4 linked regions of the Homo sapiens genome follow. The protein of the gene in region 3 purifies or fractionates together with the protein of the main gene of each other region. This does not show direct contact. Each region holds a gene or a part of one and is shown on either strand. Other genes may lie near its edges. The genes, in order: EIF5B, MIPEP, CDC42SE1 and BTBD1.

The links.
Region 1: the proteins of CDC42SE1 (region 3) and EIF5B purify together in Homo sapiens (affinity purification with mass spectrometry; 2 studies listed by BioGRID and IntAct, with this or other methods). This does not show direct contact.
Region 2: the proteins of CDC42SE1 (region 3) and MIPEP purify together in Homo sapiens (affinity purification with mass spectrometry; 2 studies listed by BioGRID and IntAct, with this or other methods). This does not show direct contact.
Region 4: the proteins of CDC42SE1 (region 3) and BTBD1 purify together in Homo sapiens (affinity purification with mass spectrometry; 2 studies listed by BioGRID and IntAct, with this or other methods). This does not show direct contact.

Annotation. Positions count from the first base shown.
Region 1 is NC_000002.12:99,388,878-99,396,812, forward strand, and holds part of EIF5B (eukaryotic translation initiation factor 5B), read left to right. Parts: intron 1-840; coding exon 841-972; intron 973-1,341; coding exon 1,342-1,524; intron 1,525-1,666; coding exon 1,667-1,828; intron 1,829-4,089; coding exon 4,090-4,221; intron 4,222-5,389; coding exon 5,390-5,521; intron 5,522-5,631; coding exon 5,632-5,708; intron 5,709-5,841; coding exon 5,842-6,006; intron 6,007-7,882; coding exon 7,883-7,935. UniProt on the Homo sapiens protein: Plays a role in translation initiation.
Region 2 is NC_000013.11:23,878,751-23,886,685, forward strand, and holds part of MIPEP (mitochondrial intermediate peptidase), read right to left. Parts: intron 7,757-7,935; coding exon 7,583-7,756; intron 3,038-7,582; coding exon 2,949-3,037; intron 605-2,948; coding exon 518-604; intron 1-517. UniProt on the Homo sapiens protein: Cleaves proteins, imported into the mitochondrion, to their mature size.
Region 3 is NC_000001.11:151,056,245-151,064,681, forward strand, and holds the start of CDC42SE1 (CDC42 small effector protein 1), read right to left. Parts: upstream 3,379-8,437; 5' UTR 3,235-3,378; intron 543-3,234; exon of another isoform or gene 407-542; intron 1-406. UniProt on the Homo sapiens protein: Probably involved in the organization of the actin cytoskeleton by acting downstream of CDC42, inducing actin filament assembly. Alters CDC42-induced cell shape changes.
Region 4 is NC_000015.10:83,015,610-83,022,874, reverse strand, and holds the end of BTBD1 (BTB/POZ domain-containing protein 1), read left to right. Parts: intron 1-2,112; coding exon 2,113-2,200; intron 2,201-4,021; coding exon 4,022-4,168; intron 4,169-4,649; coding exon 4,650-4,808; 3' UTR 4,809-6,452; downstream 6,453-7,265.

The sequences.
Region 1 (7,935 bases), on a different chromosome or scaffold from region 3:
ATTGGATTATTTCAAAGAATTAGCTTTTGGTTTTATTGATATTCTTTTCTAATATAAGCATTTAAAAGTGTTAATTTCTAATTACTAGTTAGACATGTTTTTATTATTTAGCTTTACAAGCTTCAGGCTTTTCCTTTAAAGGTGTTGAGCATGTTTATAAATATTCTAAGGACCTCATATGCTAATTTTAACATCTTCGTCATTTCCTACTGATTTGTCTCCTTAGTAGCATTCAGATTCGTCTGATTCTTTATTTTGTCACCCTAGACTCTGTCCCCAGACAGATTATGCTTTTGATTGTTTGTTTGGCTAGCAAGTATTTTTCATTTCTTCTATGCTCATTTATCTCTCATGTTGAAAAGTGAGGGAAAATAGATTCTGTCATTAACAAAACAGATTTAATCCTAATTTGAGCAATAAAATAATTAAAATAGGCTGTTCCCTTAGAAAATATATATTTTTTAATTTTTTGGTATATAATTTTATAGTGATGGTACTTGCTGGGATTGATTGATTTGTTACAAAAACTGTTTCGGAATTCCAACAATATACATTAATAGTCTTAGGATAATTCTAGGATGTTATCTTTTGCAAACAAATGGCAGCCACTTAGGAACTCATGGAGGCTGACAGGGGCAGCATGGCACCACAGCAGTTTCTAATTTAAGAGCAGGTGCCGATAAGCAGTCTGAAAGGAGCTTTTGGTACAATAAAGTGTATGAGTAAGTCACACTGTTCTGTATATATGAGACACACATGAGGAATTTTCTGGAGCTATTAATACAGTTCTTGAATGTTCTGAATTTTTTAGAGATCTTTCTCATGAAAAAACTTTTTCAGATTGATAGGTTATATGATTGGAAAAAGAGTCCTGACTCTGATGTGGCTGCTACTTTAAAGAAGCAGAAAAAGAATACAAAAGATGAATTTGAGGAGCGAGCAAAGGCTATTATTGTAGAATTTGCACAGCAGGTAAGAAGGCCTTCCTTCTTTCTGAAGAGCCTATCTCAGAATATGTATTATATTATCTTTATAATGAAGTCAGCATTTTCATTAATACTGGTTCTTTTCCTCTGTTGACAGCAATTACTTTTTTTAAATTCTTCTTCCCTTTTCTCCTTTTTCTTTGCAGTCTGAATACTTTAATTTAGAAAACTGAGTTGACTTAGAACTACTTTGCTATAATACAGTTAATGCTTATAGGATATACATGATCATTTTTAGTGTTTATGAGGAGTTTCAAAATGATGAGCCATTTGCTCATCCGGCTTCTAGTGAGGCACACCTATTCCAGATACGTTTTCTTTACAGCCTGGCATTTTGGATGATTTTTGCTCCTAGGGTTTGAATGCTGCTTTGTTTTATGAGAATAAAGATCCCCGCACTTTTGTGTCTTTGGTACCTACCTCTGCACATACTGGTGATGGCATGGGAAGTCTGATCTACCTTCTTGTAGAGTTAACTCAGACCATGTTGAGCAAGAGACTTGCACACTGTGAAGAGCTGAGAGCACAGGTGATGGAGGTAATGATCAACTTTTCAGTTTATTGTTTTTTTTTTTTTTAAAAATAGCAAGTTCCTTGAGTGGAGGATATTTACTACTTTTAGATTTAATGAACATGGTGCATTGTATGTATGTCTTTCTCTTTGCATTAATGCCTTTTAGGTTAAAGCTCTCCCGGGGATGGGCACCACTATAGATGTCATCTTGATCAATGGGCGTTTGAAGGAAGGAGATACAATCATTGTTCCTGGAGTAGAAGGGCCCATTGTAACTCAGATTCGAGGCCTCCTGTTACCTCCTCCTATGAAGGAATTACGAGTGAAGGTATGCTGAGGTGGGAAGCATTGACACGTGGGGACTTGTACAGTGTTTAGAAGTTCTGCTGAGATGGTTTCCTCACTTTGAAAGCTGTTTGACTTAATACAGAACACATACATCCCTCGCTCTCCCTTTTATTTTAGTTGTCATCATACAGGAAGGCCTGTCTGTCAGAGTAGAGATGTGTGAAAGTACCTGCTTACCAGACTGGGCCTTTGCCAGATTCTAAACTACACTGTTATGGTTCTACACTGCTAAATACGGTTGACTCTTGAACAACATGAGGGCTAGGGGCACTGACTCCCTGGCCAGTTGAAAATCCACATATATTTTTTGACTCCCCAAAAACTTAACTCCTAATAGCCTACCATTGACCAGAAGCCTTACCAATCACATACACAGTCGACTAACATGTTTTGTATGTTTTATATATTACATACTGCATTCTTACAGTAAAACAAGCTAGAGAAAAGAAAACGTGATTAAGAAAATCATAAGGAAAATAGATTTACTATTTGTTAAGTGGAAGTGGATCATCATAATGGTCCTCATTCTCATCTTCATGTTGAGTAAGCTGAGAGGGAAGAAGGAGAGGGGTAGGCCTTGCTGTGTTTGGTGGCAGAGGCAGAAGAAAATCTGAGTATAAGTGGACATATGCAGTTCAAGCCCATTTTGTTCAAGGGTCAGCTGTAGTTTTTTAACATTTTTAATTGTGAAATAAAACATTGCTCCTGAAAAGTACACACAACATAGAAGAAAAGTTTAACACATTTTTGGGAAGCAACCAGATGGAGAATCAGAACGCTGCTGGCACCCAGAAGCTTCCTGTGTGCTTCTTCCTGATCAACTCCCCTGCCTTCCCCTCCTACCCCCTGACCTTTCATAGAGTTAACCATGGTTGCATTTTATGACAGTAACAAATATCCTTGCTTTGCTTTGTTTTTGTGTCTAAGAGTACTTCCCTTAGAAGTGTCTGTAGACTTTATGTAGAAATGGAGTTATTCTCAGTGTGTACTTTTATAGCTGGCTCTTTTTTTTTTTTTTTTTTTGGTGATAGGCTCTCACTGTCACCCAGGCTGGAGTGCAGTGGTGCAGTCACAGTTCACTGCAGCCTCAACCTCCCCGGGGTTCAGGTGATCCTCCCACCTCAGCCTCCTGAATAGTTGGGACTATAGGTACGCACCACCACACCTGGCTAATTTGTTTACAGATGGGACTTTGTCATGTTGCCCAGGCTGGTCTTGACCTCCTGGGCTCAAGCAATCCACCCACCTTGATCTCCCCAAAGTGCTGGGATTATAGGCATGAGCCACCATGCCTGGCCTATATCTGGCTTCCTTTAGTGAAAAAAAAAAAGTATATAATTTTAAGATTTCTATTCCATTGTGTGACTATATCACAACATATCTATCTGTTCTGTTGATGGGAAATGTAGGTGATCTCCAGTTTTTTATGTTTATTTTATTTTATTTTATTTTGAGATGGAGTCTCAGTCTGTCATCCAGGCTGGGATTACAGGTGCACGCCACCACACCCGGCTAATTTTTGTATTTTTAGTAGAGGTGGGGTTTTGCCGTGTTGGCCAGGCTAGTCTCGAACTCCTGACCTCAGCCTCCCTAAGTGAGCCACCGCACCCGGCCCAGTTTTTGATTTTTGTTGTTACTAATAATGCTGCTGCTGTGAACATCTCTTGATGTGTTTGTGCCAGTTTCCCAGGGTATGTATACCTAGGAGTGAAGGCCACACTTGTCTACAGTGGGTGTAACAAATTATATTCTCAACTGCAGTATTTTAGTTTCATTGTTTTACAGCTTCATCAGTTCTTGGATGTTAGGTTTTAAATTTTTTTTGCCATTCTGCTAAGTGTGTAGCTCATTGCCGTTTCAGTGTGCATTTGCCTAATTGTTAACCTGGTTGGTCATTTAAAAATGTTTATTGGCCATTTATTTCCTCCTTCGTGAGATGTACATTTTTCTTCTGCATTATCTTTCTTACAGATTTATATGCGCTTATATATTCAGGATACCGGTTTGTTAGTTGGTGTGTTTTGCAATATCTTCTACTCTTGTGACTTTTTTTTTCCTGTGGTATTTTGAGAAATGGAAATATTTAATTTTAATGTTAAATTTATCAGTCTTGTGATTATTGCTTTTTGTGCCTCGTTTAAGAAACCTCTCTCTAATATCATGATGAGATTCTCTTATATCATCTTCTACTGCTAACCACTTTTAAAGTACATTTGGTAACAAATGTTTTTATCTCTGTAGAACCAGTATGAAAAGCATAAAGAAGTAGAAGCAGCTCAGGGGGTAAAGATTCTTGGAAAAGACCTGGAGAAAACATTGGCTGGTTTACCCCTCCTTGTGGCTTATAAAGAAGATGAAATCCCTGTTCTTAAAGTAAGTTCATTTAAAAATTTTTTTCCTTAAAAGCTATTTGAGTTCTGGCATGTGTCAGCATTGCACATGCTAGGGATGGTGACCAAAACTGGCTTTGTCTTTGTGAAGCCTGCCATTTCTTGGCCTCTTAGCAAACTTGATGCTTTTGAATTACTTCAGTTTGTACAATCATAGAAATTGGTATAATTTTTATATGTACTAGAATTATAAAAATAATGCATTTTATTCAAATAAAAAAATGAGTCAAAAGCTAGAAGTCGGCTGGGCATGGTGAATGCACACCTGTAGTCCCAGCTACTTGGGAGGCTGAGGCAGGAGAATCACTTGAACCTGGGAGGCAGAGGCTGCAGTGAGCCAAGATCGTGCCACTGCACTCCAACCTGGGTGACAGCAGGACCCTGTCTAAAAAAAAAAAAGCTAGAAATTGTATATTCTTTTTGGCCCATGTCCATTGTAGTTTCATAAAAGTGGACTTTGAGCCATAGTTTGTTCATTTGCCAAAGAGAAAATACAACTGTTCCCAGCACATGGCTCTTGTGTCCTGGGGCCGTGTTTATTATTTAGGCAGCATCAAGTCATGCTGTTGGGAATAAGCTATCTTAGGGCCAGTGAGAGAATAGGGCAGGCCTGTCTCTTCACCCAGTCCTGAGTATGGAGTGGACTTACGTCCCTTCAGTGGCATTGATAAACTTGTTTTACTTATTTCTGGTTAAAAATCTCTTCTTCCATTTCCCGACAAGCAGTGATGGAGGAAGGAGCTGCTGAGATCATGAGATTATGGTATTTCCTAGTTAACACAGACAAGCTGAACTTTTGGGCTATCATAACACATTACGTTTATGTGGTACTTTTTTAACTTTAAAAAAATTTTTCTTCTCTACTGTTTAATTCTGCCCACCCATCTACTGTATTTGCCAAGTGGAGCGGAGATTAAACATATTTCAAAGTTAGTAAACCTAAGACAAAGGTGAAGCGAAATACAGTTAGGGTATGGCCCCGAAATCTCCTCCTTCATTCCAGCACAGGTTCTGTGATGCCTTGCTCTATCTAAGCCTTAGTTTCATATTTGCAGATGAGTACTTAACCAAAGAGAGAAACACAATTTAATTCTAGACTGCTGAGGATAGAGGTGTGTTGACAACCTTATCAAATCTGATTTCTTTTCAAGGATGAATTGATCCATGAGTTAAAGCAGACACTAAATGCTATCAAATTAGAAGAAAAAGGAGTCTATGTCCAGGCATCTACACTGGGTTCTTTGGAAGCTCTACTGGAATTTCTGAAAACATCAGAAGTGCCCGTAAGTAACTACAACTCGCTCCACAAGTGAATGGTGGTTGGTCGTGGTTTTTGGTGCCATCGCCATTACCTGATACATACAGATAAACATGGAAACTCCCATTTTTTCAGTATGCAGGAATTAACATTGGCCCAGTGCATAAAAAAGATGTTATGAAGGCTTCAGTGATGTTGGAACATGACCCTCAGTAAGTAATTTCTCTTGCTATGAAGGCTTTCATGTTACGTAGCTATCTTAAAACTGTCCTATCTTAAAAAACTGTCCTCTGTGACATACTCTGTTTTTCACTGAATGGTCTTTGATGTGTTTTAACCTTTTAGGTATGCAGTAATTTTGGCCTTCGATGTGAGAATTGAACGAGATGCACAAGAAATGGCTGATAGTTTAGGAGTTAGAATTTTTAGTGCAGAAATTATTTATCATTTATTTGATGCCTTTACAAAATATAGACAAGACTACAAGAAACAGAAACAAGAAGAATTTAAGTAAGTTACTGTTTTTATTTACTTTGAGTCTTTGTTAATGAACATGATTGAGAATTACTGAATTCCAGAAAGGGCTGTAAACAGCAAAATCATGGCATTTACTCATCTACCAGAGGCTGCATCCTGAAATGGTGTGTTACAAACCAGAAACCCAACATACTGGGGACATTCCAGCAGTATGCAAACAAGTCTTGTCTGTGACTTCAGTTTAATAATCTTGGCAGACTTGGGTCTTGTTAATGGGTTCGTAGTTATTAAATGTAGGGACTTTATGTTGCTCATCTGGGATTATATAGATTGGAAGTAACAAAACTTGAGTGAGGAAAACCGGGAAATAAGAGATTCTGTGGGAGAGAAGTCCATTCCTCTACCAAACTTTCACTCAAGCACTCACAGTACCTACATTGCTGCAGTGGTAGAGGAGGCATCAGCAGAGAACCAGGCCAGCCTCCCTCCTCCTTTCCCTTTGAGACAGGGTCTCGTTCTGTCACCCATGCTGCAGTACAGTGGCATGATCATGGGTCACCCCAACCTCTGCCTACTGGGCTCAAGTGATCCTCCCACCTTGGCCTCCCGAGTAGTTGAGACTACAGGCTCACACCACTATGCCTGGCTAATTTTTTGTATTTTTGGTAGAGATAGGGTTTCGCCATGTTGGCCAGGCTGGTCTTGAACTCCTGAGCTCAAGTGATCCACCTGCCTCTGCCTCCCAAAGTGCTGGGATTATAGGTGTAAGCCACTGTGCCTGGTCTGGGACATGCTCTTATTGCAGGACAATTGACACATGTTGAGAAGTGCTGAAAAACCAAATAAAGCAGGGAAGGGCCTAGATAAGGAGAGGAGGGACTGTGATTAATGATGTGGTTTGGGAAGGCATCTCACCTCTTCAGACAGAGTAAGCCACACAGGCACATGGGGAGTGTCCAGAGAGAACAGCAGTGCGAGGCAGAGTGACCAGAAGGGACAGTGATAAATGAGGTCAGAGAGGGTGGCAGGACCTGTATCGTCAAGGATCTTACAGGCCATGGGAGGGATTGAGCTTCTCTGAGTTTTGCAAGAAGCCATTGCCAAGGCTGTGTGTTCACAATCAGACTGGTTAATTGGGTTGTTATGTGGACCTTGGGTTGTTAGGAAGTCAGTGGCAAGAGCCTGTCAGGAGGCTCCCACAGTCCAAGCAAGAGGTCTAGGTGATTCAGACCACAGTGATGATAGGAGTGATGGCGTAGTTTGGGATACATTTTTAAGTGGAGCTTACTAGTAAATATTAGGATTTAGACTGGTATATGCTCACTTTAGATCATGAAACCTGAAGTGAGAAGAATTCTACTTAACAAGACTGCTGGAAACTTTTAAAGCATTTTAAGCGTGTGCTCAATAAGCAGGGTAGTTATGTAGTGGCCTTTTGGATCAATGGTTTGGGAACGTGGTGGAGAAAAGGAGGGTGATAATACGGTCTGATGCCTATGTGATCCCCCAGTAGCCTACATATGTGCCTAACGAAGACCTGCCTGTCACCAGGTACTGCCTAGGTTCTAAGCCCCAGACTGTGGCTGACATCTTCAGCAGCCAAGCTCAGTGTTTTAGACTAGGAACAGAATGCTCCTGTGATGCAGCTTCTTTTGGAGGTAGGGCTTTAAAAGAGAAGAAAGCAAAGACTTGGGAAGCAACAGAATGGGGAGGAGGAGGTTAAGAACAAGGAAGAAGCGCTCTGGGCATGGGGTGGCCCTGGGCTGCAGCACCCTGCCTGCCCCTCTCCTGTGGCCGCTGGGGAAAGCTGCTTTCCTCTAATGGGAGAAGCCTGATGTTCAGCTGCAGTTTTTCTTTTTATGTTTAAGTGATTCTGTAAGCTTAAAATTCTTTTCTTTTTTCCTTTCAGGCACATAGCAGTATTTCCCTGCAAGATAAAAATCCTCCCTCAGTACATTTTTA
Region 2 (7,935 bases), on a different chromosome or scaffold from region 3:
GCAAATCATTACAAGGATCTTGACATCCTCCCAGTAGATAAAATCGATTTGCTTACATTTTCTGATAGTATCAATTATGGAACTTTGAGCATAAAGCTAAGTGTAATTATTAACTGTCTACAGGAGTCCACTCATTAGTTGAGCACTGACCACATGCCATGAATGTGTAGGTACTGAGGATGCAGCTGGGAACAAAACAGACCAAGCCCTACCCTCAAGGAGCTTGCAGTCTGGTGAGATAGATGATAGACAAATAAACAAACAGGATACGTTGGAAGGAACGAGGGCTATGAAGAAAAATAAATCAGGATCAGAGGGTAGAGTCTGACCCTGTGCAAAGATTTTGGAGGAGACACCATTTGAGTGGAGTCCTAGAGAAAGTGCAGGAGTCATAGAGATACCTGGGGAGGAACATTCCAGACAACAGAGGCTGCAAGTACAGAGGCCCTGAGGGAGAGTCTCCCAACCTCACCTCTAGAGTCACAGTCACAATCAAGGCAAAGAAATGAGTGAGTACCTTGTTTCTGGATCAAGGGAATCCACAAGTTTTTTATCAGCTAGTAATTTTTGCAAACTTTGATATAAATCCACATTTGTGTTCAACCTAGAAAAAATAGAAATTTAAAAAATTAGATGATTTTCTAATACCTTATTTTTAACTTTACATGAAAAGAATGGTGTCAGCTTGTACCACACACATGCCCAGAAGCTGAACAGCATAACCTACCAGGAACAGTGTAACCATCCTTCCTTCCTTCTTTCCTTCCCTTCTTTCTTTCTTTCCCTTATTTTGGAGACAGGGTCTCACTCTGTCACCCAGCACCCAGGCTGGAATGCAGTGGCACAATCACAGCTCACTGCAGCCTCAATCTTCTGGGCTCAAGTGATCCTTCCACCTCAGCCTCCCAAGCAGTTGGGACTACAGGCATACACCACCACGCCCAGCTAATTTTTAAATTTAAAAACACTGTAAGGGAGAGCTCAGGACACAGGCTTCAGAGCCACCCAACTGGGATGCAAGACTGGCCTTGTTACTGCTGTGGGACCTTGGACACGTTATTTAGACTTTAGGCTGCCGTGAGGATTAAATGAGATCATGTGTGCAGCACACATTTCCTATGTGAATGAACCATGGCCACTGTTGAGCAGTTGTGCCATCCAGAGAGCAAAGGGCCCAATGCTGGGCAGTGGTCCCAACCCACCCCATAGTACCACTAGCAGGAACCCAGTCCTCTTCCCTAAATGCAAATGCCATGGCCCCCTCAAAACTAAATAGTGAGCTGGGTCTAGATACAATCTGCACCCTGCTGGGTAGGTCTTCAAGGAGGGATAAGGTTGTAAGAACCACTCACCAGTCGCTACTCAGAGACTCAAGGATACTCCTGTTCCTCAGTTGGTTCACAAAAAAACACTTAAGATTTATATGAATCGAAGGGTTTCTGCTACCATTCTCATGGGCCTTCCCAAATACTAGTGAAACGTAGATAGTCATTACCCATCAAAAAAACACTCACCAAGAAGGGCCAGACTCCCACACACGGATCCCAGAAGTCAGGGAGAGAGTGAGTGTGGAGGCCTACCTCCTCCCAACCTGCTCACCCACGGAGCCACTCCATGGCAAAGGAACAGTAGCTCAGAGGCTGCCCGCACTGCCCCCACTGCAGAGGTTTAAGGAAATCTCCCAGTAGTATGTTTTATGTTGGAAGACCCTGAGATAAAGCCCATACTTCAGTCTGTATTTGTCCTCCGACAAAATGAAGAGTGCTTGTCCATGAGACCAGCCCACGTCTAATTCGGCAGGACACAGCATGCAGAGAGCCTCGAGCAGGCAGCCCACTGCTGACTCCTTCCCAGGGGCCTTTCCCCGAGAGGCAAAGCTTTCTCCCAGGGAGTCCCCACTTTCAGCCCTGTCAGCATGCCCAGTATCTGCACTCTGCAGGGCCCCGTTCTGTCCCATTACGCAAGTTGGTTTTCAGCGGCTATGGGAAAAGTCACACACGATTGTGCCAAAGTGAACAAATGTTGGCGACCTGGGGAAAAGCAGCAGCTGCACATCTTGAAGTGTTGGGTCTTCCAAGGAAGCCTCGTCTAACCAGAGAAGCCATCACTCTCCTCCTCCAACAATTTCTGGCATATGAAATTGTCTTATCGTGTTACCCCCTTTTCCCTGTTGTAAATCCACGCTGGCGAGCCCAGGGCTCTCCCTAGCTCTATACACTGCCTGGCATGGTGCCATGCAGCTAAGTGTGTTGGAATACAGCGCTGTCCACCATTCAGTTATTTTAACAAGCATTATGGAGCTCTTATAAGTGGCTTAAAAATACTCACATTTACCCCAAAATCACTTTAAAATAATTCACTCTATCACAGCCTCAGCCAGAGCATGCTCCAGCCCTCCCACAGACTTTTACAGCCTCCCTAGACTCCCCTAATTCCAACTCAACAGGGACCACAAGGACACTGTTTATAGAGCATTTTGGCTTCTCGCCCCGTGGCCCACAGCCATTGATGCAACAGCAATTTAATCAAGCGATAATCTAGTAAGTCCAACTTGCCACTAGGACACTAAAAAGCCCTTATTTAAGGTAAGTGATAATGGTGATGACAAGAATCCTGGGTGTCTGTCATCTCAGATTATCAAGTGACACCTTTACATTGATCTCATTTAACACTCACAAGGACCCTGAGGCAGGGTTAACTTTTCGACCCCATTTACAGACAAGGAAATGACTGAGAGAACAGACAACCAGCCCTAAGGCCCAGTGCCTGCCTGCGAGGTGAGCCAATGGCCTGTCCTGAGCCCTCCCTCCGGCCACCCCTGGTCACACACACCTCCCACCCTGCTGGGTGAGGGACAAGCGCTATGGACAAAACTGCCTACGGCACAAGTCCATGAAACCGGATCACCCAGGACTTGGCATGGAGGTGGGGAGGGGAACAGCACATACTTCTCTACCATGGTGCCAATACTTCTACAAGCTTCTTCCGCAGCTTCTCTGAATGCTGGCTCAGGGTGAGCGATTTTCACAAAATCAGCCTAATAAAGGGGAAAGACAAAACCAAAAGGGAATTTGATGAGAAGCTTTCTTCCAGGATCTGAGGGTGAAAATGAAAACTGGGTTTTAAGATGTGCCATTGGCTTGCCCTATGCATTTCCATTACTGACTTTTTCCTAAGCGAGTAAAGCAAAGCAGCTTCTTTCTGAACATTTAATTCTGTTATTCCTTGAAACCAAGTTTGTTTCACTCCAAAAAAAGACTTTTATTATTTCAGAAAAGTTTTTCTCTTTCAAATATAAACACCAAGCAAATTCTTTCTTTCTTTTTTTTTTTTTTTTGAGACGGAGTCTTGCTCCGTCGCCCAGGCTGGAGTGCATTGGCGCAATCTCAGGTCACTGCAAGCTCCGCCTCTCGGGTTCACGCCATTCTCCTGTCTCAGCCTCCCACGTAGCTGTGACTACAGGTGCCCACCACCACGCCCTCTAATTCTTTATTTCAAAAGAGCAGACACTGGTTTCAAATATTCTACAACTTTCTGGCTAAAATTCTTTGCAGTATGGTTTTCACATGTTAACTTATCTCCAGAAAACAACTCTTAAAGGCTTTTTTTTTTAACTGACACATAGTATAGTTTCAAAACCCATTTAACTACATTCTAGTCTTTGATTTAACTACATGGTAGTCTTTGTGCAGAAAACAAAGGCACGGTCTCTTCATAGTCCTTTCAATAAAATATGAGTTCGTAGTCTCCATGTAATACTGTATACAGCTACTACTGCTGCTGCTACTTAAGTCATTAGACATTAAAATGAGTGACAGTTCTTTTTTAAAAAGATAAAATGATGTAAAACTAAATTTTTGTTTTCATGTCAACTGTAACAAAAAGCAGAGAAACTACAAAACACTACATATTTTATTTGCCAAGAAAATGTGACTATAACATGAAATAAAATCACCACAAGATAAAATTTCTTAATTTTATTATCAAATAGTTTTTAATGCCAAAACATTTAAATCCATAGTTTGGTATATTTGTTGTAACAATTGGTAACGATAAAATAACATTAGTACCAAAGTACCTGAAAAATGAGTTATGTAAATTTACAACATTTTTTTTTTACAAATTACTAATCTACGGGTTGTGAATTTATAATCAATATTAAAATTCAAAACACTAGCATACATATTAAAAACTGATTTGTAATAGTGATGAGGAAAACAGTTGTTACATAAAAACTGTATTAAAAAAGAAAACAAAATAAAATGACTATTTGGTGAAAAACAGTTTATAAAACGATTGCCTTATAACAGTACTAATCTCACTGGCAGGTAATATCTTAAAAATTCAGATATTTTTAAGATATTAAAAATTCAGATAATCTTACTGGCAGGTAATATCTTAAAAATTCAGAACAGAGAAAGGTTCTTTTATACCCAGAGAACTACATATACAAATCACATCTTTTTTTTTTAAGTTTTCAAAATGAGATATTATTATACATGATAAATACTAAAAATGTCAAAATAAGATATAGCGCAGAGAAGTTAAAATCTTTTAGTGAAGATCAAAAGCAAAAATGTAGAAAAAAATCCTAGAATACTGATTAAGATGAAGACTAAGACAACAAATACACAGTGAATTCTGGGATTTGTGACAGCCACGCCAAGTCACCCCTCAGTATCAATGGACAATGGTTTGATCCTCCCACAGATACCCGAATCCACAGATGCTCAAGTCTCTGATATAAAATGGTGTAGTACTTGCATATAACCGACACACAGCACACCCCATACATCAAATCATATCTAGATTACTTGTAATACCTAATGAATGTAAACAATATGTAAATAGCTGATACACTGTATTGTTTTATGGAACAGTGACAAGAAAAGAAAGTCTGTACATGTTCAGTATGAATGCAAATTTTTTTTCCAAATATTTTTGATCCAAGGTTGGTTGACTCCACAGATCCCCCAATCTGGAGGGTTGACGATACAGTGAAATTCACTGACACAGATTTTCCTTTTCTGATTTCTGTGACACAATTAGGTGAACAGGGTATGAAACCTCCTTTTGGCAGTGCGTTTCCACAGCTTCCCCATCATTCAAAGACACATTTCCTATGCACATACTGGAGGCACAGAACAAAAACCCAGTACAACAGAACTACTCAGAGCCTGCAACTTCACTCCAGGGAAAAACCCTTTACAGTAAGATACTTTATCAGTTTTCTTAAGAGCGGGAGGCTTGTGGTGAACATATAATCATCTGAAAGGTGTTAATGCTCAAATCAGTTGTATGGGTGGAAGGAAATTTTCCAAAAAAGGAAAAAAAATAAAGATGGGGATGAGTTATGCTGGGTGAAAGAAGTCAGTCAAAGGTATACAGGATTCCACCTATGTGACATTCTAGAAAAGGCAAAACTATAGGGAGAGAGAACAGATTAGTGGTTGCCAGAGGTTAGTGGGGAGGGGGGGGTGTGACTACAGGGAGATTTTTGGGGGTGGATGGAACAGCTTTGTATCCTGATTGTGGTGAGGGCTGCACAAATTTATACGAGTTAAAATTCATAGAACTGTACCATCCTCCAAAAGAAGTCAATTTTACAGAATAATAATTTTAAAAACAAGTATACATTTTTTTTAAAGATGGAGAGGCTAACAAACTTTGCAACCTTTCCAGGTAAGGATTCATGAGACCTGAGCAGCCAGCCAGCCCTGAAATGGTTGGAACAGGAGAAAGAAGAAGAGCTCGACAGATACCCTGCCTGGGCTGGCAGCCCAGCTGCACCACACGCTGGCCAGCTGACAGCGGGCACATCCCTTCATCACCCAGTGCCTTTCTTCCCTCTTGTGAAAATGGAGATATGCTGAGAAGGTTACCTCAGCTCATCCAGGGAAAGCTTCTTCAGCTAACTAGGCTGTAGAAAGGGCCTACAGTCTAGTTAAATTTCCAAAAACAAGTTAATGCCAGAATATAAACTCCATGAAGTAACAGATTGTGTCTGTTTCATTCCTGCATGTATCCCTCATGCCTAGACAGTGTCTGGCACACAGTACGTGCTCAACATTGACTGAATGTGAGGGAAAAACCTATGCAGTTCTATACCATGTAGACAGGATCATAAATGATCACTATTTAAATTGTGTGTGCTGCTTTCCTTGACAAGAGTAACCAAGAGTCAGCTCCTTCAAGCTGATAGGAAACCCTGCTTCCTGGAAATGAGTATATCGAAGAGATATCTGCACTTCCATGTTTGCTGCAGCTCTGTTCACAACATCCAAGATGAGAAAGCAACCCAACTGTCCATGAACAGATGAATGGATAAAGAAAGTATGGTACTTACACACAATGGAATGCTATTCAGCCATAAAAAAGAATGAGATTATGTCATTTTCAACAACATGGATGGTCATTATGTTTAGTGAAATAAGTCAGGCACAGAAAGACAAACATCACATGTTCTCACTCACTTGTGGGACCTAAAAATAGATACAACTGAATCATGGAAATAAAGAGTAGAAGGATGGTTACCAGAGGCTAGGTAGGGTAGCAGGGTGGCATGGGGGAGGTGGGGATGGTTAATGGCTACAAAAAAACAGGAAGATTGAGTAAGACCTACTATTCGATAGCACAACAGGGTGACTACAGTCAATAATAATTTAATTGTAGATTTTAAAATAACCAGAAGAGTATAATTGGATTGTTTGTAACAGAAAGGATAAATGCTTGAGGGGATGGATACCCCATTTTCCCTGATGTAATTACTATGCATTGCATGCCTCTATCAAAACATCTCATGTACCTCATGAATATATACATGTACCCACAAAAATTAAAAATAAAAAAAAAAGAAAATTTTGCTATCTCAGCAATGGATTTCCTAGTTGCTGAAGAGATCTAGGTATACACTTCTATTTCAAATTTAAAATGTTAAAAAAAAAAAGTCTTTACAATCATTTTGATGTCAAAACTTGGTTTTTAATTAAAAAAAAAAAAGCATTCCTGAAAAGGTTTATTAAAACTGGTTTTCACACCTCTTATGAAAAAGAAGTGGCTCACACTTATAATCCCAGCACTTTGGGAGGCCGAGGCAGGAGGTTCACTTGGGGCTAGGAGTTCAAGATCAGCCCGGGCAACACAGGGAGACCCTGTCTCTATTAAAAAAAAAAAAAAAAGAAAAAGGGGAATTTTGTTGTAAATGTACACATAAAGTGTTCTTAGAATTTTGGGAGACACTTTCATAAATGAAGAATCTCTGTCAAATGAATATATATGTAAATATATATTACCCAAATATAGCAAATATTTGCTATATTAGTATTCATTCATTATATATTACATGTATATTTTATTAAACATACGTATTAAAGTACAAGTTCTAAATATCACCTTTTCCTATAATATTTTCCCATTCCTAATGACATATTTCATCATAAAAAATTATACCCAATGGATCTCAGTTTCAGACATTTTTAACTTTATAATCTAATATTAATAGTAAACAACAAAGGATAAATTTCACTTAAATTTTAACAAGTTGAAAGAGAGGTAGCTTCAAGTCTGAGGTAAAGCACCTTACCAAGTCGGCCACTCTGCATAAGGAATCCGAGAGCTCATCGAAGATCAGCACGGTCTGGGGCCCAGGTGGGGTGGAACATGCACGGTCCACAAGCAATTCTGTCTTTCTCAAGGCTTTTTCTTGTGCAATATGAAATCCTTCTGGGGCACTCAGCTCAGGAACTCCAAAAAGACCCTTAGAACCAAAGAATACGTCTGATTTATAACCAAAATTCAAAATTGTGCTTTTTTTATATTTACTAAAATTACTTTTATCACAAAGGAGATCTTGACTTTCATTGGTGTATCATGTTATACCTGTGATCACAGATACCACTATCATACTCCCCATATCACTCCACATAAATTACACTA
Region 3 (8,437 bases):
CTTAGAGTTAAGAGGATGGGCGAGGACCAAAGGATAGTGGCAGAAATTAGCAAAGTTTGGGGTGATACAAGCTCCAGCTCCCTTCTCTCTGAGTTTAGGGCAGAAGGGGAGGGGCATTTAAGTGACTCTGAAGAGGAAATAGTGGTTTTTTGTTCTCACAAACAAGGTCTCCACCCTGTCCCTGCCTTTTTTCTTACCTTGCCCTGAACGCCTAGAGTTTCTTTAAGAACAGGAGAGCCCTGGACCACTGAGGTCCTAGGAGACTAACTGGCAGGTTGGCCCTCAGGAAAGACTTTCTACAATAAGGAATTTCTTCCCTCTCTGTTTGCTGCCCTATTCCTCCTGATTTCCCTCCAGTGAAATCCAATCCCTCCCAGAAGCCAGTCAGCAGCAGTTCCTTTATTACCTGACCTTGAGATCCTTCCTGAAGGCTGTGTACATTCTGTTTATCTGTGTCCTGTATCACTGCACTCCTGTGTGTACACCTCTGTTTGCACATGCGTGGCATGGCCATATCTCCACGTGTGTCCAGTACAGATCATCTGTGTACAGGTTGTGGGTACATGTGCCAGGTATCTTCTGTCCCATGAGGAATATTTTCCCCACCGTCCACATGTCCTATCTGCCACTCTGCTCTGCCTCACACCCTATAGGGCCCAGGCTCCCCTCCAGCTGTGACCTGTTCTCCCCTCCCTCCTCACCAATTCTATCCTCAAGCTTCATCAGTGAACCAGACATAAGGAACTTTCCAATAGTACTAGTGTCCAAGGAAGAACTTCCTCCCTTCTCACTACTGCCAGCCAGGGTAGGACACATCTGGGTTTCTTCTTAGACTCACTTGCATTTCCCCAGTCCTATAGTACAGACAACCTCAAAGATTCCAAAAAGGGCAGTTTCATAAATATGACACTTTAACATGAACAGGAATCTCCCTTTCTTGCAGGCCGGGAACCCTGATGCTTTGGCACCCTAGACTGATTTAAAAACAAGAGATAGGCCGGGCGTGGTGGCTCACGCCTGTAATCCCAGCACTTTGGGAGGCCAAGGTGGGCGGATCACCTGAGGTCAGGAGTTCCAGACCAGCCTGGCCAACATGGTGAAACCCCATCTCTGCTAAAAATACAAAAGATTAGCTGGGCGTGGTGGCGGATGCCTGTAATCCCAGCTACTTGGGAGGCTGAGGCAGGAGAATCGCTTGAACCGGAGATTGCAGTGAGCCGAGATCGCCACTGCACTCCAGCCTGGGCAACAAGAGCGAAACTCCGCCTCAAAAAAAACACACACAAAAAAACGAGATAGCAGGGTGTGGTAGCATGTGCCTGTCATCCCAGCTACTGGGGAGGCTGAGGCAGGAGGATCACTTGAGCCCAAGAGTTGCGGCTACAGTGAGCCATGTTTGCACCCCTGCACTCCAGCCTGGGTGACAGGACAAGACCCTGTCTCAAATACAAAACACACACACACACACACACACACACACACACACACACACACAGAGGTTTTTTTTTTTTTTAACAGCCTTGAGATGAGATCACACAAACACTCAAATGTAGCTTCTAGGGGAGGGGAGAACCCAGGAGGCTGGGCTTTCTCTTCTCTTCTCACCACTGGAAGGGAGGAGTAACCAGAAGGAGCGGAAGCTAAAACACGCTGTCCAGAGAGGGGAGCTGTGGTCAGTGGGACGTCAGTGAGTCAGTCATAGGGTTTGTCCTGATGGTGGTGGTGGCAGGTGGTAAGGGTTGGGGAAAAATGAAGAATTAGAGGAAACCCCCAACACCAGCAGGCAGGCTGTACTGTGACTGGACTCTCCCTCAACATCCCCCACTCTGCTCAAAGCTGAGGGACAGAGGTGGATAGTGCTGGGAGGGAAGAGAAGAGAGGGGGAGGAGAAGGAGAGAGGGAAAGGGGCAGTGGAGAGAACAAGGCCATTTCTGTTTCTTTTCCAGGGACCTGACCAGAGCTGGGTGGAGGGAAAGCGTGTGTGTGGGACTTGGCATGAAATGACCAATGATGACGAGAAGTGACCAGGAAATTCCATTCCCTAGGACATTAGGGTCTCTGAAACTTGAGGGTGGGGTCAGAGTGTGAAGAAGACAGGTCAGGGTGAATGTGATGGTAGCGCAGGGCAGTGGGGGATGGGAACAAAGCCAGAAAAGGAAGTAAGAGCCACTGGCGGCCACTCTTCTTTAAAGCAGCCAGAAGAGAGTGGGTTGAGGAAAAATGAAGTCCTGAGCTGGTCAGCCCAGGCGGAAGAGCCACCCGAATCCAACCCCACAGTGAATAGGGAAGGGGCTGAGAAAACAACAGGAGGGATGAGGATTAGACCTCATAAGGCCACGTCCTGAGAGCCAAGTGGTGCTCAGAACTCGACCTCTCTGAGTTCCAAATGGCAAGAGTGAAATATGGAACCGGGAAAGCCACCCCCCGCCCCCACCAAGATCATACTAGGACTTGAGGGTCTCAGAGCTGTTGGGAGGTGAGCAGAAGGGATGGGAAAGAGGTGCCAGGGAGGAAGGATGTACAGGCTAGTTCTCTGGTCCTGTTCGGGCCCCAAACCGGTTCTCCCGGTCCCACCGCCTCTGGCCCTAAGGCCTCCAACCCGCGGCCTGACAAGCCCTCACATGAAGCAGCTGGAGAGAAAGAAAGAATCGAGAGAATGGCATGGGCAATTCTGGCTAGAAGCCCGGGGCAGCAGCTGGTCCCTGTGTGGAGACCCCGAGACATGGAGGGCTGCTGAGGGACTCTGGAGAAGCGGTGTGGACTCCATATTTCAGCCAAGTGACAGGCCCAACACCAACCTTCCCTTCCCCAGGAAAGGTCTTCTGGGGGCTTAAGAGGAAAGAGGGCTAGGCCCTAAGCCTCCCCTCCCCAAATATATTCAATCACACAGATTCCGTATCTGTCTCCCCCCACTACACAACTCTACCTAGAAGTTCTCTGCTGTTCTCAACCCTTAACCGGACTGGGACCTCTCTGGGAATCTTTCGGACCCTCTCCCTCCCACCTCCCCCAACATTCCAGTTCCTTCTTTTCCTTCTACTCTTCAGCGGCCTCAGCCTGCGCACCCCAGGAGCGTGGATGACTACGGCCACCCCGGGCGCGCACCCCTTTCCCACCACCCCAGCATCTCTGCAGCCCAGGACACCCGCCTCCCCCACACCCCGCATCCGGTGTGTCTCCGCCTGGCCCGGCCGGCGCGGCAGGCGGGCCAGGGGACCAACTGCACGGCCTCACCTGCTCTTCTCCACCATCCAGACGTTCAGCTACAGCTGGTGGGGGTGAGGGACTCTGCTCCGTGGCCGCCAGTGTGGGCTTCCCGGGCTAGCTCTGCGGCGAGGTGGGGGAGCCGAGTACGAGCCGGCAGAGGTGGGGCCGGCTGAGGGCGGAAGCGGCGGCGACGCGATTACGAAACCCGTCCGGCTCGGAGCCCGGCGCACTGCTCCCCTCTGGACTGCGGAGGCACTGCACTGCGCGGGACGTGGGAGGGTGCCTCTGCAGCCCCTCAAGGCCGCCGCCCCTGCGGGGAGAACTGGAGAATGCGGACACCTAGATGAGGCCCTGGCACCCAAGCTGGGGCCCCCGGAATCTCACGTTCCCTTTACTCGCCAGGCATTTCGGGGCAAAACGAAGCGGAGCCCCCCAAACCCCCAGACCTAACCAAGTTCAGAGATTCGCAGAAGCACGCCCCCCACCCCAAATTTATTGTGCTCTACCCAAAATGGAATAGGACTAGGTTTATTTACCCATTGTGAGGGTAGAGAGGCGAGTCTGGAGGAGCAGGGATTGGGAGAAGGGGTGGAAAAATACTCTGATTCTTAAAAATACTTTGTAACCTAAAGTCCTTAAATTGTGGAAGAAAGGAATACTCCTCCTTTCCATTGTAGTCTAGAGTTAAGATTTCAAATCCATAAATTAGAGGACCTAAAATTAGAGGGCAATTAACTGCTCATTCATTGGGCCCCCAGTCAGCACGGGGGTGCTGGAAGAGATCGGGAATAATAGCGCAGACCAATGAGCCTAGGGAGATGCTTTCATCGTCTCTCCTTCCCTCAAGTGTTCTGGAACCTATCATTTGAATTAGCCGAGTCAGGCAGGAGGGGGCGGGGAATCCTTCCGCCCTTCTTAGGAGGGGCTGCATTGCAGGGGGAGAGTGAACTGACAGACTCAGTCACTGAAGAGGGAAAAGGAGTGAGAAGACAAAGCCGTCAAAGCCCCAACAGCTTTGTATTTCTCCAGCCCGGCGCAGACCCCGGAGCTCCCGAGGCACTCCCTCCATCTTTGGAACACGCCAGTAATTGATTGATAACAGGTAAACCAAACTGAGGGAGGGGGCAGGGGGCTGCAAAGATAGAAGAGCGGCTGCTTATGGTTAGATTGAAAGACCCCACATGAGGTGGGGGACAGCTGAAGAGGAGAGAAGGGGGCGCTATGAACAATGGGTAGTTATTTCTTCACAGCATCCATGCCTTGTTACCTTATACAGACCATTAATCTCTAACAATTTACTTGTAGTTATTTCTCAGCACCTACCTCATTTCAAGTATCCTTTTCTGTAATTTATTGTCCTGTGTATTTAATATCTTCAGTCTACTTATCTTCCTTTTCAAACCATAATTTGTTTTACCAGCTGTTTAATTTTTAGTCCTACTGTATCTCTCTGTCCTCTACTTCCCTATACTTGCAATTTTTTTCTGTAGTGTTCTATGTTTCTCTGTAGGAGGGAGTTTGGGAGGGGGTTATATGGGATAATGTTGGGTGTAATCCTGACCTTTCTTTGGATAATCTCTTTCATTCCACCTCGAATCTTTGCTCCAAAGAAAGAGGCAGCCTAGGGTAGGAAAGGTGGGGGCCTCTGTGTTGGAGAACTGCCTGATTCCATAGTGAAATCAGTATAGCCCACAGGAGCTAGGTATGGGGACAGATTCTGGAAAAGAATGATTTGCAGCTCAGTGGAATTGGTGGAGGAATGCTAGTAGGAAAATCCAAGCTCTGACTGAGGCACACATTATGAGATGTCAGAGAGGTTCTGCTCCCCTCTACCACCACCACCACCTTGTCCTTCCCCCTTCCCCATGGTGGCAGCATGACACAGCAAGGCCCTGTTGAGTAGGCCTTGGATGCCCACAAAGGGTCTGGACAAAGGATATTTGGGCGTGTCTGTGTGGCTCCGAGAGTGTATCTTTCTAATCTATACATTTGCTAATCATGTATCTCTAAGAACAGAGTGATAATTAGATATTGCCTTTGCCTAAAATACCCGGATAATTTAAAGTGAAGGATAGTGGGAAGCATTTATTGAACATATATTGTGGTACAAGGCACTGTCAAAACCCTTTAAGTAAATGATACCATTTAAGATAATGAAAGATGTAAAGATAGATGAAGTAGGGCTGGAGAGCATTTGTGGAGGGGAAGGGGAAGCTAGCCAAAAAAGGATCTTTTGCGAAATTTGGAGTATTTGATAATTAAATCCATACTATATTAAATCAAAAATGTCATTACTACTTACATTAGTGAATAGCATTTTAACTTCAATTTTCTGTGTAGTATTACTTTATGTTCTTGACTTGATTTTAATGCCACGTATGTTTGCATGCATGTCTTTCTTGAATGTATTTGGTACCCTGTGTACATGTCTCTGGGTCAATGACATAGAGATTTTAGGCCTTTTGAGTTAATATTTCATAAAATTTGCTTTAGCTTTTTAAATTGCAAGATAGCTCTACCAAACACTCAGGGACTGTTTGAGCAGTTTTTTATACATACTCTGGTTGTAAGAAAAGGAGTCAGTTTGTCGAAGAGCTTTTTTTTTTTTCTCAGATTCTAGCTTGCTCTACTGCCCTTTGCTTTTCCCCATTCAGATCACAATTACAGGAACAATCACCTAAACCACGGAAAATCTATTCTTCAGCAACTAAAAATTCTTTTAAGTTTTGGGAATACTGGTATAGGGTTATATAAAGCTGTTGGCAACTATCCATGTACAACACAAAAAGGGATCAGATTGGGAATTATGAGATCTGGATTCTATACAAACTGGCTGGAAGTCTTCCCAAGTCATTAATTTCTAAGATGTCTTCTAGTTTTAAAATTCTATGATTTTTTCCCCCCATGATTCTATTTTTTTTTTTTTTTTAAGATGGAGTCTCGCTCTGTTGCCCAGGCTGGAGTGCAGTGGTGCAATCTTGGCTCACTGCAACCTCCACCTCCCCAGTTCAAGCGATTCTCCTGCCTCAGCCTCCCGAGTAGCTGGGATTATAGGCGCCTGCCACCACACCTGGCTAATTTTTGTATTTTTAGTAAAGACGGGGTTTCACTATCTTGGCCAGGCTGGTCTCGAATTCCTGACCTTGTGATCCACCTGCCTCGGCCTCCCAAAGTGCTGAGATTACAGGCGTGTGCCACCGCGCCTGGCCCCATGATTCTATTTTTTAAAGAGCCTATAATGTGGCCTGCATTATACTAAGCTCATTCTGGAGAAGACTTGTCAGGTAGGATAGAGAAAAGAACCCAGCTAGCTGTGAAAATAACTGGTAACAGTAAGAATCCCTGTAGCCACAAGTCCATAACAGTATTGACTCCTAGGTATGCTTCTTAGAATCTCTATAGTCCCAGATTTAAGCAGTGGGTGGTTGGTTAATGGATACAACCATTTTTTGTAGCTCTCTTTCTGCACACGTCTCTGCAAAGTACTATGGAGATTATCAGAGTTGAGTATCATAGGATGATGACCTCACCTTTCCAACATGCTCCCCGACCCTGCTGCAATCCCGGCATCACCCTCCTTCTAAGCAGCTTCTCTGCTGAGTAATGCTCAGTTCCCAGGGTTTATTTTGGAACTTAAACTAAGAAAAAGAACAACTCAGAATTCACTTTCAACATTAAAAACATCCTAGCCTACCCACTCACCATTCCTGAAGCCCCCACACTCTCACACATCACTGTGTTCTAGATTAACACTTTCTTTTTCTGCCTTAGTACAGTCATTTCACATTATACTGGAGCATTTTGGAACCTATTTAAGGCCATTATTTAGGAGTCTCTGGCCTGGTGAGACCCAATAGGGTGTGTTGGAGAAAGGCCTTTTGAAACTTGGGGTTCTGTTTTTGGAGGTGATAGAATGTTCTTTCTGCTCCTTTGGGAACATTTCAACTAATGCTTCTTTTTTTAATTTTTATTTATTTATTATTATTATTATTGAGACGGAGTCTTGCTCTTTCGCCCAGGCTGGAGTGCAGTGGCGCTATCTCAGCTCACCGCAAGCTCCGCCTCCCAGGTTCGCGCCATTCTCCTGCCTCAGCCTCCCAAGTAGCTGGGACTACAGGCGCCCACCACCGCGCCCGGCTTAATATTTGTACTTTTAGTAGAGACGGGGTTTCACCGTGTTAGCCAGGATGGTCTCGATCTCCTGACCTCGTGATCCACCCGCCTCGGCCTCCCAAAGTGCTGGGATTACAGGCGTAAGCCACCACGCCCGACCACAACTAATGCTTCTTGACCCTTGGCTAGTAAGTAGCAGGGTGGAGGCTGTAGGCAGCTCTAATAGTCCTAAAATATCAGGCAGGGCTTGGGTAGAATGAGTAGAGAAAGTGATAGATCCATTAACGCATGGAAGAGTATCTGATTCTGTTAAAATACCTTCTTCCAATCTGAACTTTACTTTAAATCCAAATGGATTTCCAATCCATTTGCTCTCATTATCATCAGTATACTCGAGCACTGGGATCAGAGAAAAGAGATCCCTGTTACAGCATAGGAAAGTTATTTATTTATTTATTTATTATTACTTTTTTTGAGATGGAGTTTCGCTCTTGTTGCCCAGGCTGGAGTGCAATGGCGAGATCTCGGCTCACTGCAACCTCCACCTCCCAGGTTCAAGCAATTTTCCTGCCTCAGCCTCCCAAATAACTGGGATTACAGGCATGCGCCACCTCGCCTGGCTAATTTTGTATTTTTAATAGAGACAGGATTTCACCATGTTGGTTGGGCTGGTCTTGAACTCCTCACCTCCTGATCTGCCTGCCTCGGCCTCCCAAAGTGCTGGGATTATAGGCGTAAGCCACTGCACCTGGCTAGGAAAGTTCTTTTAGCACCTAGGTTTTGTTCTGAAGGAGAGGTAGGCTAGAGAGAAATGGATTGTTAAGGCTTACCTGTGGGCTAATATAAGGGAATGGCAAGGTATTAATTAAATAGTGAGGGAAAGTTAATCAGCAGCCTTGAATGGCTTTGTGTACAAAGCCCACCACTTGTGTACAGAGAAAGTAGATTGGTCTTTACCCTTGGGGAAACTCCTAGGTATGGGGACAGATTCTGGAAAAGAATGATTATTTGCAATTCAGTGGAACTGGTGAGGGAATGCTAATAGGAAAATCCAAGCTCTGACTGAGGCACGCATGGTGAGATGCCAGAGAGCTTCTGCTCCCCTCTACCACCACCT
Region 4 (7,265 bases), on a different chromosome or scaffold from region 3:
ATTCTCCTGCTTCAGCCTCCTGAGTAGCTGGGACTACGGTGCACACCACCACACTCAGTTAATTTTTGTATTTTTAGTAAAGACAGGGTTTCACCATGTTGGCCAGAATGGTCTCGATCCCCTGACCTCATGATCCACCTGCCTCAGCCTCCCAAAGTGCTGGGATTACAGGCGTGAGCCACTGTGCCTGGTCTATTTTTTTTTTTTCTTTTTGAGATGGAGTCCCGCTCTGTTGCCCAGGCTGGCACCATCTCAGCTCACTGCAACCTCCGCCTCCCGGGTTCTAAGCAATTCTCCTGCCTCAGCCTCCCGAATAGCTGGGATTACAGGGGTGTGCCACCATGCCTGGCTAATTTTGTATTTTTAGTAGAGGTGAGGCTTCACCATGTTGGCCAGGCTGGTCTCGAACTCCTGACCTCAGGTGATCCACCCACCTCAGCCTCCCAAAGTGCTGGGTTACAGTCATGAGGCACTGTGCCTGCCCTACTTTTTTATAATAAAAAATTATAAATAACATATTTTAGAGCCAGGAGTGGTAGCTCATGGGTATAATCCCAGCAACTCAGGACAATGAGTTGGGAGTATCATCTGAGACCAGTTCTAGACCAGCCTGGGCAACTTAGTTAGACTCCATCTGTAAAAAAAAAAAAAAAAAAAATTAAACTAGCAAGGAATGGTGGAGTGTGTCTGCAGCCCAGCTACTTGGGAGGCTGAGGTGGAAGGATCACTTGAGCCCAGGAGTTCAAGCCTGTGGTGAGCCATGATTGTACCACTGTACCCCAGCCTCGGCAATAGAGCAAGACTCCATCTCTTTAAAAAAAATTACATGTTTGTAAGCGTTTAAGGTGATCTTACTGTACCAGATGTTCAAAATAGTACTGTTATCTAGCTTATAGGGCTGTTACGATGACTAAAGGAAATAATTCTGTAAAGAACTGAAGTTCAGTGCCTGGCACACTAGGAAGTACTCATGAAGTGGTATTGATGAGTTAGTATTACTAATAATTGAAGGTGTTGCTGACAATGTTGAGAGTTACTCAATGTAATTTTGCAATGTAAGACATTATAATTATGTCAGATTTTACAGGCTTTTAGTTCCATATGTATTATTATTATTATTATTATTATTATTTGAGAAGGAGTCTCGCTCTGTCACCCAGGATGGAGTGCCGGGTCACCTGCAGCTTCCTTCTCCCAGGTTCAAACGATTCTCCTGCCTCAGTTTCTCTAGTAGCTGGGATTACAGGTGCCTGCTATCATGCCCAGCTAACTGTTATATTTTTAGTAAAGACAGGGATTTGCCATGTTGGCCAGGCTGGTCTGAAACTCCTGACCTCAGGTAATCCACCTGGCTCAGCCTCCCAAAGTGCTGGGATTGCAGTGTGAGCCACCACACCCAGCCTCAGTTCCATATGTATTTAATGTCAGTTTTTATTCATTTACAAAATGGAGTAAGATGGGTCAATATTTCTTAACTATTATGACCAAACTGGACTTGTTAATTATTCTAGTTAGGAAACTGCATTCGAATCCTGTCCCATCCCTCTGCTACCAGTATTCTGTTAGAGTAGCCTACTTCCTTCACAGCTCTTGTTACAATTTGTAATTATTTATTTATTCCTTTCTTGCATTATCAGTGTCCTCCATTAGACTGTATGCACAATGCAGGTAGAAACTGTCTTGTTGACCATTACTTCCGCAGTGCCAAGCCTAGTACCTAAATATGATAAGCCCTTAGTAAGTATTTGTTGAATTGATAATTGTCGTAGTTTGAGATGCTGGGCTTCAGTCCTAATGGCTGAGATGTCTGCGTTCATGAAAAAGATGTACAAATATTTGGACTCGTATAGCACTAAAATTATCATTACAACAAAAGTGGGTATTTAGGTTAAATTCTTTTACAAAACCAATTCTTAGGTTCCTCTTAAGTTCAAATCTGCTCTAGAAAGCTTTTTGGTAAGCAAACAGATGACATTTCCAAGGATATCTAATTTGTTTTCCTTTTTATAAGCAAAACTGGATGTTCCAGGTTACACTTAAAAAAAATTATAACCCTTCAGAATATGAACACATGGGATTAATTATATTTTATTTTTGGCTTCTTTCTCTCAGATTCACAGTTAATAGAAGGATCTCTATAGTTGGATTTGGCTTGTATGGATCTATTCATGGCCCTACAGATTATCAAGTGAATATACAGGTACAGTTTCCTCCCCCACCATATATCATTTTGAAATAACACAAACAGGTAACTTTAAGATATTGTTTTGACAGAATCCAAATTTCAATATAATTGTCAAAGCAATCAGAAGGCCCCTTAGTAGCATTGTAAGCATAAAGAGTTCTGTTTTAGAGTTGATCTAAAAAGTCTGGTTGCAGAAAATTGGGGTCCTTCACAAAAGCAGTAGCATATAAGGAGCTCTTCTTTGTCCAGGAATCCCTTCTATTAGTACTTCCTGCTGTGCAGTCTTAAAACATCCTCCTGCCTTTTTCATGGCCCTTTCAACTCTAGGACTGAAACTAAATTTCTTGTAACTGGTGTGAGCATCCTGTGACTTCCAAGGGGCTGAGCAGACCCTGCTTTATTCTTGGTTACTTTTTTTTGAGACAGGGTCTCACTTGGTCGCCCAGGCTGAAGAGCAGTGGTGCGATCACAGCTCACTTCAGCCTTAATCACCCAGGCTCAAGCAATCCTCCCACCTCAGCCTCCCAAGTAGCTAGGACCACAGGTATGTGCCACCATGCCCAACTAATTTTTCTTTCTTTTTTTTTTTGTCTCGCTGTGTTGCCCAGGGTGGTCTTGAACTCCAGGGCTCAAGTGATCTTCCTGCCTTGGCCTCCCAAGGCATTGGGATTACAGGCATTAGGCCCCTGCTTCTTTTTTTTTTTTTTTTTTTTTTTTTTTGAGATGGAGTCTTGCTCTGTTGCCCAGGCTGGAGTGCAGTGGCGCGATCTTGGCTCATTGCAAGCTCCGCCTCCCGGGTTCACACAATTCTCCTGCCTCGGCCTCCTAGCACTTTGGGAGGCCAAGGAAGGTGGATCACGAGGTCAGGAGTTTGAGACCAGCCTGGCCAACATGGTGAAACCCTGTCTCTACTAAAAATACAAAAAAATTAGCTGGGCATGGTGGTGCATGCCTGTAATCCCAGCTACTCGGGAGGCTGAGATAGGAGAATTGCTTGAACTGGGACCTGGGAGGCAGATGTTGCAGTGAGCCAAGGTCATGCCACTGCCTTCCAGCCAGGGCTACAGAGTGAGACTCCGTCTCAAAAAAAAAAAAAAAAAGACACCAGGCTTCTTGTGTACAAACTGTGGGAGGGCATCAGGATTATAGGTACATTAAAATTATGAAGTATAAATACTGTGAGTAAAATAATAGAAACAGTCTGGGCGCAGTGGCTCAGATCTATAATCCCAGTACTTTGGGAGGCCGATGTGGAAGGATTGCTTGAGCCCAGGAGTTCCAGACCAGCCTGGGCAACAGAACACGATCCCATCTCTACAAAAAAAATGAAAAATTAGGGCTGGGCGCAGTGGCTCACACCAGCACTTTGGGAGGCTGAGGTGGGCAGATCGCTTGAGACCAAGAGTTGGAGATCAGCCTGGCCAACATGATGAAACCCTGTCTCTACTAAAAATACAAAAAAATTAGCCAGGTGTGGTCGCGCACATCTGTAATCCCAGCTACTCAGGAGGCTGAGGCACGAAAATTGCTTCAGCTTGGGAAGTGGAGGTTTCAGTGAGCCGAGACCCCAACACTGCACCCCAGGCTAGGCAACAGAGTGAGAGAGTCTGTCTCAAAAACACACACACACACACACCCACCAACAGAGTGAGAGAGTCTGTCTCAAACACACACACACACACACCACCCCCCACCCCCCCACCCCCAAGGCTAGGCAACAGAGTGAGAGTCTGTCTCAAAACACACACGCACACATTGCTAAGGGCTTTATATTATTTTCTATAGTTTGCTTTATTTGGTTTAACTTAAATGTAACTTGTCTCTTAAAAATTACAGATCATTGAATATGAGAAAAAGCAAACCCTGGGACAGAATGATACCGGCTTTAGTTGTGATGGGACAGCTAACACATTCAGGGTCATGTTCAAGGAACCCATAGAGATCCTGCCCAATGTGTGCTACACAGCATGTGCAACACTCAAAGTAAGAGTCATGCACTATGTTCCAGATGGTTTCCTCTTGAATGTTGCAGAATGTGTGTTTTAGAAGCTGAGAGTCACTGACAGCTGAGCCATTTATAAAGAGGGGGGAAAAGAAGCTGGGAGCTAAAATATTCCACTGCCTTCCGAAAAGAAGTACTTCTCCCCACAGCTCTGTTCTGAAAGAAATAGCTCTTCTTAAGAAGTAGCCCTTTGTTTCAGTAAGCAGTTGAATGTTTGGCAGAAAATAAAAGTTATTTTTGTAAAATCTTTTCACTATTCTCTAATAGCTGGGCTGTACATTCAGTATTTTTATTCATTAATTAGTTTTTTGGTAAAAACTTCATTTTTCTCTAAATGACAGCATAAAATTTTATATAGGAATGATAGTGAAATATAATGGAACATTAATCTAATTAAAACACCACATTAAACTGAGTGCTTATTAAATGAAAATTACTAAGGAACCTTTTGTTCTCATTTAGGGTCCAGATTCCCACTATGGCACAAAAGGATTGAAGAAAGTAGTGCATGAGACACCTGCTGCAAGCAAGACTGTTTTTTTCTTTTTTAGTTCCCCTGGCAATAATAATGGCACTTCAATAGAAGATGGACAAATTCCAGAAATCATATTTTATACATAATTTAGCATTATAATACATCTTGGCTAAATAATACCATACAATCTAGTGTCAAAAACATAAATGGCCACAAAAAAGTAGTTTGAGTGTTATGAATATTTAAAATTGTAAGATAAGAAACAGTTTCTTAGAGCAGATAGAAAAATGCTTATTTAAATCTTTGCATGATTTAAAAACAGATTTTCCATTTTCTTACAACTTTAAGAGAAAAGAACTGGGTTTAATGGTTTAAAAAAAAGCACAGCTTTTTCACCTTCATCTTGTATAATTTCATAGATTGGCTGACTTAGGGTCTTTCAATAGTTTGGGAATTGAAAGATTCTTGTTATATATAGCTAGTTTGGGTTTGTTTTTGTTTTAACTATTTTGAAGGTTAGGTGAGATGGGCAAATAGGCTTAACTATTTTGAAGGTTGGATGAAAAGAGATGGGTCAGTATTCCTACAGAATTCTTATTAACTCAAATAACTAAATTTCAGAAAATTAAGAAGCTGACTTTATATTTGGTGGTTTGAAGTATCTTGTTGTTAGCATTTGTAATAATGCTAAAAAAGGCCTAATAAAATGCCCAAGAAAATATTCAGTGCATTTATAGAGAAGGATATTTTGTAGTAGTATAGTAATGTGTTATGTAGTACAGTTTTAAAGCTATAAATGGAATTTTGTGTAAATTCACAAAAATGTGATATAAACAGGATCTAAGACTGGATTCCCTGTCACTAAACTGCACCACTATACCTGTCTCTCTGTGTGGGGGACACTGCTGATGATTCCCAAGATTGAGATGATGACGGTGATGACGACTGGGTGAACAGCCATCACTTCAACATTGTGATAATCCTTCACAGCAAGAAACCGAATAAAATACTAACATTTCTAACAACTGCTCTGACATTGTAAAGAGATCCAACAGAATCACTCCTGCTGAAAAATACGCTTTCTGCCACCTACACATTTCTATTTAGGAAGTAAAATTTGCTTCATGGTCATGACCCCATTAGTCAGTGTTACAGCTGTGTTGGGGATAGGAAGTATATCTGGCAGATTGATATTTATACACTTTTTTATAAAGCAGATTTTAAAATATAGTAACATCCATTTTTTTCCCTTGAAAGTGATTCTCTTATAAAAAATGAAAGTGGAGTTTAAGGTATATCAAATCGTTGTGGAAGGTGATTAAAAATCAAAATTCTTTTAAATATCAACTTAATTTTTTCTAAGTAAGATACAAAAAATTTTCATCTAAAGTAATATTTCACTTTATATTGTAAAGAAGGTAGGTATATTGGTGGCTGAGGTCTCTTGAAATTGCTAAAGGGAAATTTTTCTATGGTAATGCTCTTACGGATATAAACCTCAGTTAAATGGAATTATCTATGGGATGTGTGGTTCTGGTTAACTAAAAATTAACCAGTAAACACTCTGTAGTAACCATTACAGAAAATACTTCTGCCTTAAAAAATATGATATGCCAGAGATGAGTTAGTGTTTCTTGACGTTGGAGACCTTTTAAATGCCTCATCTGTTGTACTGAACAATTGAAACTGCATGCAGCCATAAAAGGGACAAGAAACAGAACTGTTTACTAACTTTGGGACATCCCCTGGAGTTTTTAAAAATAAATAAATATATATATATATAAAAAAAACTCTTTTATGTCATTTGCCTTTTTCTTCTAAAAGTGAATATAAACAGAATTTTGATTTGTTTTTTGTTTGTTTTTTGAGATGAAGCCTCGCTCTGTTGCCAAGGCTGGAGGGCAGTGGTGCAATCTCGGCTCACTGCATCCTCCACCTCCTGGATTCAAGCTATTATGCGGCCTCAGCCTCCAGAGTAGCTGGGATTACAGGTGCCCACCACCACGCCCAGCTAATTTTTGTATTTTTAGTAGAGATGGGGTTTCACTATGTTGGCCAGGCTGGTCTCGAACTCCTGACCTCAGCTGCCTTGGCCTCCCAGAGTGCTGGGATTGATTACAGGCGTGAGCCACCACGCCTGGCTGTCAACACCATTTTGGAACAAAGGTTCTAGTTAATTGAGGTTTAACTTAATGGGAGTAATGCAATACAAAATACAAATACCTCATTGCTGATTTAAACCAGTTCATAGGAACTGCAGTGATAACTGCCGCAGCCTTTTGTTTCTTGATCATTTCTTGTGGCCTCAGGTTTTTCTCCTGTTCTAATCAGGAGGTGGAGGTTGAATGTGGGAGAATCCAATAAATAATCTTATTTACTGTTAAGAGTGTGACTATCATCTTACAGCTGTTTATTAATAACTACCCAAGTGACTACTAGGCTCTGCAATGAGTACTTTACTACATTCTTACTTGTTTCTCACAGCATCAGTATGAGGGAAGTACCCATTTCACAGGCAAAGAAATTAAAAGGTCAGCTAGGCTGGGCACGGTGGCTCACACCTGTAATCCCAGCACTTTGAGAGGCTGAGACAGAAGGATCAC